Linked DNA regions of Homo sapiens. The protein of the gene in region 1 purifies or fractionates together with the protein of each later gene. This does not show direct contact. Each region holds a gene or a part of one and is shown on either strand. Other genes may lie near its edges.

What was found.
Region 2: the proteins of HERC3 (region 1) and GDA purify together in Homo sapiens (affinity purification with mass spectrometry; 2 studies listed by BioGRID and IntAct, with this or other methods). This does not show direct contact.

Annotation. Positions count from the first base shown.
Region 1 is NC_000004.12:88,587,826-88,595,481, reverse strand, and holds the start of HERC3 (probable E3 ubiquitin-protein ligase HERC3), read right to left. Parts: upstream 3,003-7,656; 5' UTR 2,908-3,002; intron 1-2,907. UniProt on the Homo sapiens protein: E3 ubiquitin-protein ligase which accepts ubiquitin from an E2 ubiquitin-conjugating enzyme in the form of a thioester and then directly transfers the ubiquitin to targeted substrates.
Region 2 is NC_000009.12:72,208,214-72,215,488, reverse strand, and holds part of GDA (guanine deaminase), read right to left. Parts: intron 7,265-7,275; coding exon of another isoform or gene 7,151-7,264; intron 4,803-7,150; coding exon 4,715-4,802; intron 1,604-4,714; coding exon 1,498-1,603; intron 1-1,497. UniProt on the Homo sapiens protein: Catalyzes the hydrolytic deamination of guanine, producing xanthine and ammonia.

The DNA.
Region 1 (7,656 bases):
CAGGAGTTAACCTCTGAAAATAAGAATATCTTTAAATTACTCAATCTTGAATATTCCCCACGCATTGTATCTCAAGACAGGAGTTTGGTTAAATACCAGTAAGATAACCTCTAACCAGTTATAAAGACATCAATCACCTCTAAAAGTGAACTAGAGATATAGATATCACCTTATAAAAATTCCTGACATTTGATAGGGAGTAGTAAAAATGGAATTACTTTAAAATCTCCCATTTTTGTTAGAGAAAATTTTGGAAAATAATTAAATTTTGTCTATTTTCTTTATTTTTCCATGTATGACACATAGCAGCTTGTTTTGCCACAACTGTTATGAAGACTGTCTCCTTTCATTCCTTTTCTTTTTTTTTTTTTTTTTTTTTTTGAGACAGAGTCTGGCTCTTTCACCCAGGCTGGAGTGCAGTGGCCGATCTCGGCTCACTGCAACCTCTGCCTCCCAGGTTCAAGCGATTCTCCTGCCTCAGCCTCCCAAGTAGCTGGAATTACAGGCGCCCGCCACCACGCCCAGCTAATTTTTCTATTTTTAGTAGAGAAGGGGTTTCACCATGTTGGTCAGGCTGGTCTCCAACTCCTGACCTCAAGTGATCCACCCGTCTCAAGCCGCCCAAAGTGCTGGGATTACAGGTGTGAGCCACTGCGCCCAGCCAGTCACTGCACCCGGTCTTTCCCTTTTCATTACCACATCCTCCATCATGCAAAATGAGAAGAGATCATCTCAGAGAGATACCTAAAGTATCTCAAAAGAAAAAGTCCTCCATGATTTTAAGATATTTTTGTCAAGCACTTTAGGAGGCCCAGGCGGGTGGACAGCCTGAGCCCAGGGGTTGGAGATCAGCCTGAGCAACATGGCAAAACCCCGTTTCGTCTTTTGGCGAAACCAAAAACTACAAAAAATTAGCTGGGCATGGTGGTGCACGCCTGTGGTCCCAGCTACTTTGGAGGGTAAGGTGGCAGATTCGCTTGAGCCTGGGAGGCGGAGGTTGCAGTGAGCCGAGATCGCACCAGTGCACTCCAGCCTGTGCAACAGAGCGAGACCCCCCATCTCGAAAGAAAAGATATTGTCATAACTTTATTTCTACCTCTCTATGCAGAAAATCCCATTCGATCTGGAGAATAGTACTTTTACTTATAAAACTGAAGCATAACTATCTTGTGTCTCCAGTAGGGGTACTACTACTCTCATTAAGTATAAAAAAAGTTTTTAATTGGTCATACAAATCTTAAGAAATTTAAATTTGGTCTTCAGAATGAAATGCTATAACGAATGGCTTCAAGCACACAACATGGAACATTCTGAAATCCCTGTTTCTTTTTCAAAAAGTAAACTCCAGCTACTTACTGAACAAGAACTGGATGCTAGTGCTAATGTGCTAATTTTGTTTTTCATGCCAAAGGAGTTCTGCCAAAGAGGTTTCTAACCTGTCCTCCTTGTTCCCTGCATTATACTTTTTACAGAAAGTTCCTAGCCTCGAAGGCGGTACGACCATGATGTAAAATATGTAATTCAATTATTTTGCTTTAGGATATGCAATCCATGTACTTTGCTTTTCTGATTTATAATGCTACTCCCTCCTCCCCCAGGGTAAAGGAAAGTACAAAAGGAGAGAGCTTCACAGTAATCTGCCGACTAAAACATGATACCCGATCACCGCATTTAAAACTTTTTATTTTTTCATTTCTCTCAAGTCTAGAGTTGAAAAATCAGCTCACTTGATCTTATCTAATCATCAAATAAAAGGTTCTAGAAATAGCTTCTTATTTGTGGAAAGAGCCAGAAGACACATACAAATGGAAGAGAGCTCTTGAATCGTCTTTCCCAAAGCATTCTATGCGTGATGAATGCAAGCAAAATCCTGGAAGGCTTTTCTCTGAATTAGGTACTTCCTAATTGAGCTCATTTGAAAGCTGATGTAAAATGCAATCAGAAAGCAGCCAGAAACAGTGACAGACCAACAGCAAAGTTCAAATACTTATTCCCTGGAGCTCATGCTGCATACACATATTCCGTGCACAGTCGCATTAGGTACTGTCTCCATAGGCTCACCTGTTTCAGGTTACACATGCTCCTCTCGGTCTGGTTGCCCTGGTTTGCCCACTCCACACATTCACAAATGACTCAAGTCTCACCTGCCCCCGGCCGTCCCAGCTCCTGACACCCCCGCGTCGGTCCGCACCGACGTGTCGGCGTACACACACACACACACCCGTACACACGTGTCCGCACACACCCTCGCCCCCGGCCCCGCCCAGGAGGCGGACCCGGGAGAGGCGAGCCGGCCCGGCCTCCGCGAAGTGGGTGGTGCCGGGCCCCGCAGCCCTGCCGGCGCTGTCATCGCGGACGCCGTGCACCGCGTCCTCGGCGCAAACTCCTCGCGGCCGCTGAGGTTCCCCAAAATGCCAGGGCCTCGCCAGCTCCCATTTCAATTGAAAGCGTCCGCGCCCCTCACTGCACGGAGGTCCCTGGAACCCCAGAATTTAAATAGGGGCAGGGGGCGAGCATAGGGACTATCCTCCTTTTGACTTTCTGCGTCGCAATTCCTCCCGGGCGGCAGGGCGGGAGGGCGGCCGAGCGCGGGCGGGAGGCGCTCCCATTTTGAAGGCTTGTCTCGCCTTTCCCGGCGCGGGGCTCTCTGACCGGAGGGCGAGCCCACGAGAACGCCAGGGAGGCGTACGCAGGGTACTAAGGGCGCCGCGCCCCAACCTCCCCGCGCCCCAGACCCAGGTCGTCTCTGGAGGTGCCTGCAGCCCCCGCCGCCGGAGCCACGGGAGGAGCCGCAGCCGCCCCTCCGGGAGCCGCGCGCTGACTGCAGTGCCAGGCGGAACGCGGCCCAGCGCGGCTGCAGCTCCGCCGTACCCCCCTCCCTGGAACCCCGGCCCCCGCCCTGCGCACCTCGGCAGCAGCCGAACCGCAGCTTGGGACTCCGACTGTCACAGCCCCTCTCGCCGGACCCGGGGTTTCTCCGTTTTCGGCGTCACAATAATAAGGAAGTTTCCCCGCAAGCCTGCGGGCGGCGGAATGCGCTGGGTGAATGGCTTCGCACCGGGCCAATGGGCGCCGTTCTGGGATGGGCCCGCGCCAATGGCGGCCGCCGTGGCACGGGCTGGAGGCGGGGCGGCAAGGTCCGCGGGCAGGAGGAGGGGAGAGGCCCAGGCCCCAGAGCCAGGCGCAGGCTGCCCGAGGTGACAGGACTCGAGGGCCCGGCGCGGGGACAGCGGCACGGGTGTGTCAGCCGAAATCGGACTGCAAGACATAGAGCGTTGACGCTGAAATAAGATTGCTTTTCACTGGCGGGGAAGCGAGCTGGACCGATCAGCGGTTGCCTATTCAGGTTCTGGACTCTGGTTTTTATTATTTATGAAGAGGTGACCGAAAGCCTTGGGCACGGGGGAAAAAGCTGGAGGGTGACAATTGAGGGAGAGTGCGCTAGTCTTCTGCTTTACTCCCCTTCGTAGGACTGTAGGAAGCGCGGCGCCGGCCCGCGGCGCTGCGCGGTGGGAGAGGCGGGGAAGGAGGTACGCGGCAGCCGCCGGCGCTCTTCTGGAGAGGTGGGGATCGAAGACCGGCACGGGGCTGCGGAAGAAAGGCGGGCCTGGGGGAGGCTGGAGGGTGGACCCGGGGGGAGCATAGCAAGAAGAGTCTGAGCACCAGATCTTAAAATCTTGTAATCTGAAAGACACTCTGTGGCCTATACCCAGTAACGGATTTTTTAAAAGTTTGTCCTCTTCCACTTTTCCCTAGCGCCGAATCCCAGAGCTTCCTCCCCCTCCCCAAGGTCACTAGTGCTTTCATACTTGCCCTAGACCTGATCTGATCCACAGCTAATCTTTTGCAGAAAACCTCAGAAAGGTGACTTCATGTGTCTGCCCCCCTTAAATGTAAAATGCAGAACACTGGCACGGTACTGCTTTAATCCAAAGGAATAACTCTCCCAGTGGAAGAATTTCTATAACCTGGCATTTGAAGCAGGAAGGCCCTTTGAGGATAGATTCTTACCAAGGACATTCAAATCACCTCAGGTCTGCAATCGCTCGTCCTGAGAACCTAACAGACTGACCAAGTAGAAAAGAAAGTTTCAAGGAGTGGTGTATCCTGGGGATGAGACGTTGTTGGCTGACTGACAGTGTTGAGCCCTCCGTGAAATAATGCAAATTGTCCAGTACACTGAGACAAGAAAGCTAAAAAAGCAGAATCTAAGTTATCAGGTCATCTAAGAAAAAATCCAAACCTTTGAAATTTGGATCACACTTGACACGTTTAGAAACACTGGGGATGGCCAGGCGCGGTGGCCCATGCCTGTAATCTCGGCACTTTGGGAGGCCGAAGCCGGTGGATCACTTGAGGTCAGCAGTTCGAGACCAGCCTGGCCAACATGGTGAAACCTTGTCTCTACAAAAAAAAATACCAAAATTAGCCGAGTAGGGTGGTGTGCGCCTGTAGTCCCAGCTACTCAGGAGGCTGAGGCAGGAGAATCACTGGAACCTGGAAGGCGGAGGTTGCAGTAAGCTGAAATCAAGCCACTGTACTTACTCCAGCCTGGGCAACAGAATGAAACGTTGTCTCAAAAAAAAAAAAAAAAGAAAGAAAAAGGAAAAAAGAAACACTGGGGACAAGAGTAACACAATTCACTTATATTCCAGATATGTGGCAGTTTCACAAAAGTTTAGTCTATTACAAAGATGCAATCCCAATTTAGAGATGCTGTTGGCAAAAGAACTGGTTAAATGCCCAAAGAGGAGTCTGGTAGGAAGACGAAGGAGTCCGGTACTTGCAAAGGAGAAAGTGAGAGATCCTATTGTTAGGTGTCACATATGAGGTTTGTAATCAATCAGTGTTTGGGTTGATATGTCTGGCCCATGGCTCAAGTGTTTTTCTTTTTTTGTTGTTGTTTTTTTGTTTTTTGTTTTTGAGACGGAGTCTCGCTCTGTCGCCCAGGCTGGAGTGCAGTGGCGCAAACTCGGCTCCCTGCAAGCTGCGCCTCCCGGATTCACGCAAGTCTCCTGTCGCAGCCTCCTGAGTAACTGGGACTACAGGCGCCCACCACAACGCCCGGCTAATTTTTGTATTTTCAGTAGAGACGGGGTTTCACCATGTTAGCCAGGATGGTCTCAATCTCCTGACCTCGTGATCCGCCCACCTCGGCCTCCCAAAGTGCTGGGATTACAGGCGTGAGCCACCGCGCCCGGAGTTTGTTTTTTTGAGAAGGAGTCTCGCTCAGTTGCCTGGGATGGAGTGCAGTGGCGCGATCTCTGCTCACTGCAACATCCACCTCCCCGGCTCAAGCAATTCTCCTGCCTCAGCCTCCCGAGTAGCTGGGATTACAGGCGCTCACCACCACACCCGGCTCATTTTTGTACTTTTAGTAGAGGCGGGATTTCACCATGTTGGCCAGGCCGGTTTAGAACTCCTGACCTCAAATCATCTGCCCACCTCGGCCTCCCAAAGTGCTGAGATTACAGGCGTGAGCCTCCGTGCCGGCCGGCTCAAGTGTTTTTCATATGAAATTTCATCTTGAGGAAAAGGATGGTTATCAAAGACTCAAGCCTAGAAATGGGATAGGAGCAATGTATAAATAACAAGTTAGGATACTGTAAGCTTCTTTTACCAAATAAATAGCCAAACCCTGAGAACTTACATAGAACTTACATAGAACAGTAAAGATACCACAGTACTTCGATTTATTTTTTTTCATTGGGACAACATATAATGACAATTTCCTTAGCAAGCATGTCCTGCTTCAAAATGGCTTTAAATGGCTCCAGCATCAGCAATAGTCTTAACAGCAGATACGTAAACTGTTTTGAAGAGGCCATGGTTTACTTTTTCCTTCCATTTCTATAGCCCTGTCTTCCATCCATTTCTTTCTGCATTCTCATATATTCTCTAACAAACGTACTATATACTGAGCACCTACAATAATGTCAGCCCCTGTGAATACATTGGTAAGCAAAACAGTACAGTCTTTGTTGCCATGAAAGGGGAGACAAACATTAACCAAATAATTGTACCAAGGAATATATACTTGCTAACCTGTATAAATTTTATAAAAGAAAAACATTCATGTTAAAAATAAAAGGCTTAATAAATTCTAGGCTCATGCCCCTGTAATCCCAGGGCTTTGGGTTACAGGCTGAGGCAAGAGCATCGCTTGAGGCCAGGAGTTTGAGACCAGCCTGTGCAACATAGTGAGTCCCTGTCTCTCCAAAAAATAAAAATAGGCATGGTGGGGCACGCCTTTAGTCCTAGCTACTTGGGAGGCTGAGGTGAGAGAATAGCTTGAGCATAGGAATTCGAGGTTGCATTGAGCTTTGATGGCACCACTGCACTCCAGCCTGGATGACAGAGGAGACTCCAAATACACACACACACACGCACACACGCGTGCACATACACACACACACACACATATAACCATAACTTTTTTTTTAAGAGACAGGATCTTGCTATGTTGCCCAGGCTGGCTTCAAACTCCTAGACTCAAGCAATCCTGCTGCCTTAGCCTCCCGAGGAGCAAGGATTAAACTAACCATAACTTTTGACAGGGGGACAGGACCATGTGGTTCAGCTCTATCACTGGTTAGACAAGGTATGCCCAGTGGCAAGGGGATGGTGCCCAGGGCTGCTGCACTTCTACCTGAACACATGCTGATTTCCTCCATTAGTTACCATTCACTTCTTAAAATACATCTATTTTCAAATGAAACCATTTTTCAATAGAATGGTAATACTGTTTAATGATAATTGTTTTCCTTTCTTCCCTTTGTTTAATTTACTTGCCTTGCAGACAAATATTTACTTGGTAAACTTTGAAAGAGATAGATTTCTGATATCTTGGATGAAATCTGTGGAAAAAAACAGGCTACCCAGGACATTCTGTCTCTCAGATACACCATTGAAGAATAAATATCTTTAGGAGGGAAAAGCACTGACTGATTATTTGACAAGTAAAAAGTATGTGTACCTTGTATGGTTATGTAATGACAAAGGTGTTTCTTGGTCCCCCACGTCCAAAAGAAGTACTTACTTTCTCAGTCTAGTCAGTACTTAATGGAAAAATCAGTCTATCTATACCCAGACTAAACTTATTAAAAACTGTCCTGTAACACACAGCATTGATTTATTAATATGAAACAACTTAGAATAAAAACATTATGGTAAATCAGTATTACCATCAAATAATCTTTTAATATTATTGAATATGTTCCACCTGTAGTACTGCTAGACAAGAAGCATCATTCCTGACTACAAAGAGCTTACAGCCCTTATGATTATTTCTCTATCTTCCTTGAAACTATTCATGGTTTGTTTGCATTTTTTTCTTATCAAGCCATTTGGATGAAGCATAAGAATCTTACCTTAATTATGAGAAACTCATTGTTTTCATATAAATTAAAATGTATTAATGATAACAGGATTGGATGGTTGAACATTTTCTAAGAAAACCTTTAAGTTGAGCATTAGCTGGTCTCTGAAGATTTCATCCAATAAAGCCTTTAGGAAGTGAAGTATTTCGTGAAGGTTCCTCCTTTTAAAAAGTCCCTTAATATGTGCTCTTAGAAATGGCATCCCACATTTCACTATGACTGGACTGGCAAAATAAGTGCTTGGGCAAAAGCAGCAAAGATCACGTTTGTCATCATG
Region 2 (7,275 bases), on another chromosome or scaffold:
GCCTGTTATGGCCATTACAGCATACATCCAGAACAACTTTCCTGTTCCCAAGGTAGGACGAAATAGTAGTGAAGGATGCATATACCACCTTGAGAAAACAATAAAAGATACCCTATTATGGTAACTTTTGGTGGTTTCATTACAAAAAAAAATTCTTCTTTATACCTTTTTGTGTTTCTCTAAGTTCTGGACCATGGAAACACATATTACTTTGGTATCTTTTAAAAAAATCCTTTTGTAGTGAAAGTCTTTCATTAACCTGTAACTATAACTCATTTTTCCTAACTTCTTGTATACTATTTTATTTCACAAATAATTATTCACTTCCATCATCATTTTTAAATTAACACATGCCATAGCAAGTATTCTTGCATACCCTCTGTTTCTCTCTCTTTTATTCTCTTTACTTACATTGAATATGAGGTGTGATCTATATCATGAGAGAAAGAACTTTGAGCCGGGCACAGTGGCTCATGCCTGTAATCCCAGTGCTTTGGGTGGCCAAGGCAGGTGGATCACCTGAGGTCAGGAGTTCAAGACCAGCCTGGCCAACCTGGTGAAACCACGTCTCTACTAAAAATACAAAAATTAGCTGGGTGTGGTGGCACGTGCCTGTAATCCCAGCTACTCGGGAGGCTGAGGCAGGAGAATCTCTTGAACACAGGAGGTGGAGGTTTCAGTGAGCTGAGATCGCGCCATTGCACTCCAGCCTGGGTGACAGAGTGACAGTCTGTCTCAAAAAAAGAAAAGAAAAGAAAAAAAAAAAAGAACTTTGAATTTAGAGTCATAGACCCTGGTTTTGAATTCTGGCTCCACTACTTAAAAGCTGTATGACTGTGAGCAAGCCTCTTAGCCTATGTCAGACTCAGCTTCCTTATCATAAAAGACAGATGTGGGCTGGGCGTGGTGGCTCACGCCTGTAATCTCAGCACTTTGGGAGGCCGAGGCGGGCAGATCACGAGGTCAGGAGTTCGAGACCAGCCCAGCCAACATAGTGAAACCCCGTCTCTACTAAAAATACAAAAATTAGCTGAGTGTGGTGGCATGCACCTATAGTCCCAGCTACTCAGGAGGCTGAGGTGGAAGAATCGCTTGAACCCAGGAGGCAGAGGTTGCAGTGAGCTGAAGGTTGCAGTGAGCTGAGACCACGCCATTGCACTCCAGCCTGGATGACAGAGTGAGACTCCGTCTCAAAAAAAAAAAATAAAAATAAATAAAAAATAAATAAAAAGACAGATGCTTCATGGAGATTTCTATGAGGATCAAGTGTGGCACTACAAAGGAAAGCTCTTTGTAAATCATTAATGATTATCGAGTGTTTGATCAAATTCACTGTAGACTAACCGACCCATTGCATTAAACAGAACATTCTGAGTCACTATGTGCACATCCCAACTGGGTGATAACAGTATCCTGTTTCCTTTTTCCATCTCTAACTCCATCAGTGCAGCACAGGAATTCACCTGTAAGACAAATCAAGACAAATGGGCCTTTTACCTCTCAGTTTCCTTGATCGATTCCTCAGTGGTCTCCTTGTATTCTGGAAAAGTGTCATTCAAATCCATGCAAACTTTGCCCACAAATGCCCGCTGTCCAAATTTATCTGTAAAGTATACACAAAAAGAATATGAAGGCATGTTTGTTTCTGAAACAGTACTTTTTCTTTTTCTTTTTTTTTTTTTTTTTGAGACGGAGTCCCGCTGTTTAGCCCAGGCCAGATTGCAGTGGCGCAATCTCGGCTCACTGCAAGCTCCGCCTCCCAGGTTCATGCCATTCTCCTGCCTCAGCCTCCCGAGTAGCTGGGACTACAGGCGCCCGCCACCGCGCCCGGCTAATTTTTTGTATTTTTAGTAGAGACGGGGTTTCACCGTGTTAGCCAAGATGGTCTCGATCTCCTGACCTTGTGATCCGCCCGCCTCGGCCTCCCAAAGTGCTGGGATTACAGGCGTGAGCCACCGCGCCCGGCCAAAACAGTACTTTTTCTAAGCTTTCAACAGTAATTTTTAAATTAAAATCATATATGGAAAACATAAATGAAAATGTAAAAGATCATCCACCATCACACCACTTAAGAACAAGAACCACCACAAATTCCCTACTATATTCAGTAAACAGTAAAAGTTTTTCTATTCATCACTTTAACCCACTACCTCCCCCATCCCCATTCTCAGGCTGTCAGGTGGGTTTTTTGGTTTTTTTGTTTGTTTGTTTGTTTTGTTTTTGAGACGGAGTCTCACTCTGTCACCAGCCTGGAGTGCAGTGGCGTGATCTGGGCTCACTGCAACCTCCAACTCCCTGGTTCAAGTGATTCTCCTGCTTCAGCCTCCTGAGTAGCTTGGATTACAGGCACGCACCACTGTGCCCAGCTAATTTTTGTATTTTTAGTAGAGACAGTGTTTCACCATGTTGGCCAGGATGGTTCGATCTCCTGACCTTGTGATCTGCCTGCCTGGGCCTCCCAAAGTGCTGGGATTGCAGGCGTGAGCCACTGTGCTTGGCTGGGTGTTTTTAAGTTATTATTCAGTTTTTCCCTTTGCTTATCCAGTGTGTCTATATTTTCATTAAATATGTAACTATCTTTGCTCTCATTTTATCACATGGTAAAGGAGCAAACAGTCTCAGGTCCTAAAGAAAGACTCTCTTAGTCATTGGCATACCTACACTCAGCTTCTTCTACCCCAACTTACAATCTCCCTCCTGTCTCCTACTCTACCACCATCCCTTGGATCTCTCTCTCTCCCTCTCTCTATCATGGTCCTCTTCTAGACAAAACACAGAATGGCTGAGGGATAAGAACATGAGCACTGGAATTGGAAAGATTTGGACTGATTCCTTATTCCTCTGATTACTCCAGGTGGTGGATATTATTTGGTTAAGGTCTAAACCTATATATGTACAGTGTTCTCTGCTATGTGTAGGGTTGTGAGGAATACATGCAATAATATATATAAGGTGTCAGGCATGTGGTTATCTAGGCAACATACTGCTACTATTCTTTTTTTTTTTTAAGGTGGCGTCTCACTCTGTCGCCCAGGCTGGAGTGCAGTGGCACAATCTCAGCTCACTGAAAGCTCTGCCTCCTGGGTTCACGTCATTCTCCTGCCTCAGCCTCCTGAGTAGCTGGGACTACAGGCGCCCACCACTACGCTTGGTTAATTTTTTGTATTTTTAGTAGAGACAGGGTTTCACCATGTTAGCCAGGATGGTCTCAATCTCCCGACCTCATGATCCGCCCGCCTCGGCCTCCGAAAGTGCCAGGATTACAGGCATTAACCACCGCGCCTGGCCATACTATTCTTAACTGAAACAATGCCAATATTATCTGTGAGGAATTTTACGCAGTCTTACTAGCAGCTCTCAGCACTAGAACCTAGTCCTCATCAAAGGTGCTGGAAGAATTCTATTTCAGCAAGAAAGCTGAGGCTATATGGGACAATGGTAATTGTTTTTACAGTGTCTCCATCTCTGTCATAAGAGATTTTTAAAAACCTTTCTGCCTCTCTCCTTCCCCTGTAATTCATTTAGATAACTGGCCATTAGATTAATCTTCCTTAAAATACCACTTTCATCACATCACTCACACCTGGACTCAGAACCTTTTTTGAGTCTTTGGTGCATATTTGAGCTCTTCTACAATGTGAACCCTCCCATCTGCCTACCCTCTTCTCCCACTGCCCCCAGGCGATGAATCCACTCCTCTAGTTAAACTACTGTGGTCCCTGCATCCACTATTGACACTCCTGTTCCCATACCTGTGTCCTTCCCCTATCTAGAAGACAGTTTGTCCTCTCCTCATCTTGTCTTTACTTCAAAGCCCAGTTTAAAGGACCCTTTCATAAAGCCTTCCCAGATGTCGTAGTTCTGGGTTCTCTTTGCCTTCTCTGAAGACTGTAGTATCTATTTTCAGAGTCACCCATTAGGTCAGGTCTTTTGCATAAGCAAACAGTGGCATCAGTGTATCAGCCAACAGTATTTACTGAGCACCTGCTATGTGCCAGGTACTGTGCTGGGTACAAGTTTTGGAATCATCAACCCGAATCCAGAATCAGCTCTTCTTACTAGCTGTGCAACCCTGGGCATGTTACTTATCCTCTCTGAGCGTCAGTCTAACCATCTGTAACATGAGGACATCAGTAACCACTTCAGAAGGCTGTTTGCTGCTGAACTAATTCTTCCAGAGTGCTTTGCACAATGCTAGACGTCTAGTAACAGCACCATAGTTGTTACTAAGGTTAGTGATCAATGGTGTAGGTATTCTGTCTGGCTTCTCAAGGGCAGAGACTATTTTTTATCTCATTGCGTTTCCAGCATCTAGCACAGTGCCCTGACTCTAGCCAATAGCCACCATGTATCTGCTGATATAAGAAACTATTACCACAACTAGAATTAGTAAAGTTTCCCTAAAAAGCCCTAAATTAATACACAAAATTCAGACTCATATATATCATTCTGTAACCAAAAATTGTAAGTAAATAATCAGAGTACTTAGAAAATAGAAAACACTCTATGATACAGTTTTCTATTTTCTAAGTACTTTAGAAAATTTCCTAAGGGCCACAGTGACATATAGACACGTAATTACTTGCAAAAAATGTAATGCTCATGTTCTAGCAATTAAAAGGCAGGTCTGCCCAAAAGTACATATAAGTTGTTTGCCACGATGGTCTGGCTGTCTTTGCTTGAGGTGCCCATAAATCATGCTTCATTTGCTCACCTGTAATGTCGGCAAGGAGCAGAGATGAGTCAGTGTGAATTGTTGCAAAGTAACAAGCTGTGGTTGTTCCATTCTTTAGTGTTCTCCTCTAAAAATAAATCACAAAAACCGCGAATCACGTGTGCTCAGAAAAGTCACATGGTACATCCAGAGGAAAACAGAATTTTAGTTTTTAATTTTAAAATGTTTTTATTTAAAGGTATGCCATCTTGATGTAGAGTACAGTTAGGTAAATGGCAAAAGGTATTTATATTCCAAAAGTTAGCTGGAGGAGAAGCTGATACTTCTGATTTTTTCTCGATTCACACAGTTCTGTGCTTCAGAATTCATTAAAATGTGATACTAATGAATTCCTTCTTTCTTAGGATTGTTTAAGGATATCCAAATTTTATTGCATCTGGGAGTACATAAATAAGTTTTTCTTCTACTACAGAATAAAAATATTCAGCCAGACTTTAGCTCAACCTGGAAGGTTAATCACATATATCTATCTCCTTTCCTTCGCAAACTACAACAAACATGACAGTAAAGGAGTACAAACGTTATTAACCCACAAGAAGAACATGAGAGGAGAGACATGAGCAGAGAAAACATTTCAATATCTTCTTGGAAGACAAAAAACATGGACGAGAACCTGGAAGCAACTTGGAAAGAAGGAGAGAAGTGTGTGGGTTTTAGCAGGGGACTGGCTGGAAGTCTATGCAGGTATGATTAAACCCTGGCAGGAACCTTGTTGAAATCAGCCAACCACCCTTAACTTCTTCCTTATAAGAGAGATTTACTCTTTATAGAACCTGGATAGTATTTAGAGGGTACAAGCTCCAAAAGAGAAGGTAAAGCAGAGGTTTAAGTGAAAATCTGGCTGACCTCAAGGGCACTCAGTCATTTTCCCCAGAATACCACGTGTACTACTCCCACAACTCCTGGCAGGGGACTAAACGATTATTTTCTAGAGAAAATGAATGGCTCTAAAAGAAAGATGTCTTCACAGTGACGTTTGGGACCCAAATTCACTGCCTTCACTACTCATCCTATAATGAAGTTACCATCAACAAGTGATACCTCCACCCAGAAATTCCAGTCAGCACCTTATAGCATCACAGTATGAATGTATGTCCAGGGTTTGATAGGCATTGGAGGGAATCTATTATCAAAAAGATAAGGAGGGGGAGAAAGAATCTGGAAAAAATCTTAGAGGAAACATAATCTATAAGGTCAGAAAAAAGCTCAGTTAAAAAAAACAACTATGACTCACATCCTCAAAGAAATAAAACACACTATTGCACCCACAAAACAAGAACAGAATGCTATGAAAATCAGAATGCAGGAGCTCTCCAAAAGTAAAAATATTATAAATGAAATGTGGAAGCCAGTAGGAGGGTTGTAGGATAAATTACAAGAGAATTGCTCAGGAAAAGGAAAAGATGAAAATCAAAGGTGAGAACATAAGAAAATTAGGCTCAATCTAGGCAATCCAACATTTAGAATAAGAAATCTAAATTTTTTTAAATAAATGGAAGGGACAAAAATATGAAAAATAATATTCATCTCCAAAATTAAAATCCTCATAGAATTGTCAGCACAGGGAATAAAAAGAGAACCCAAAGTAAGGCATATAATTGTGAGATATTAAGTTCGTAAGTACAGAAAAGATGCTAAAAACTCCAGGAAAAAAAAAAAAACTGGTCACAGATAAATGACAGGACTCACAACGACATTGGATTTCTCACTAACAATGCTGGAAGCAGAACAATGCCTTCAAATTCAACTCATATATATCATTCTGTAACCAAAAATCCTAAGTAAATAATTAAAGTACTTAGAAAATAGAAAACGCTCTATTATATAGGTTTCTATTTTCTAAGTACTTTAGAAAATTTTCTAAGGGCCACAGTGATACACAGACAATTAAGTACTTGCAAAAAATGCAATGCTCATGTTCTAGCAATTAAAAAGGAGGTCTTCCCACAAGTACATATAAGTTGTTTGTCACAACAGGAGTTATTTTTAACATATAATTTTATACCTTGGTAAATTATCAATCAAGTGTGAAGGTAGCATAGAAATATGATTAAGTACCGAAGGACTTGAAAATTTTACTCTCCATGAACTCTTTCTTAGGAAGCTTTTAGAAACTGTCTTTTAGTAAAACACAAGAGTAATCCAAAGTAATTCCTGGATCCAGGGAGTGGGCATTAAACGCAGGAAAGAGGCAAAGAGAATGCCAAGATTACAGTAGTGCTACAGAGAATGCTGACCAGAAACAAGAGAATGGGAGGAGGTGAGAAGATCTTCAAGAAAGAAAATGGAACGGATATTGCCTGACCTGTCTGAGCACTTGGAAAAAGGACTAGTGGATTGAATACTTTGGGGCATATCTTTAGCAGAAGCTTTTAAATGCAGAGGAAAACCCTCCAGACAGTGGCTCTTGCTTACGTTTTGCCTGTTATTAGCTACGTGACCTTGAGAAGGTTGCTTACATTCCATGTTTCCTCCTTTGTGAAAAAACAGGGTTTTCTTGACTAGTACAGACATCAGAAGCTCAAGTGTCTGCAGGATTG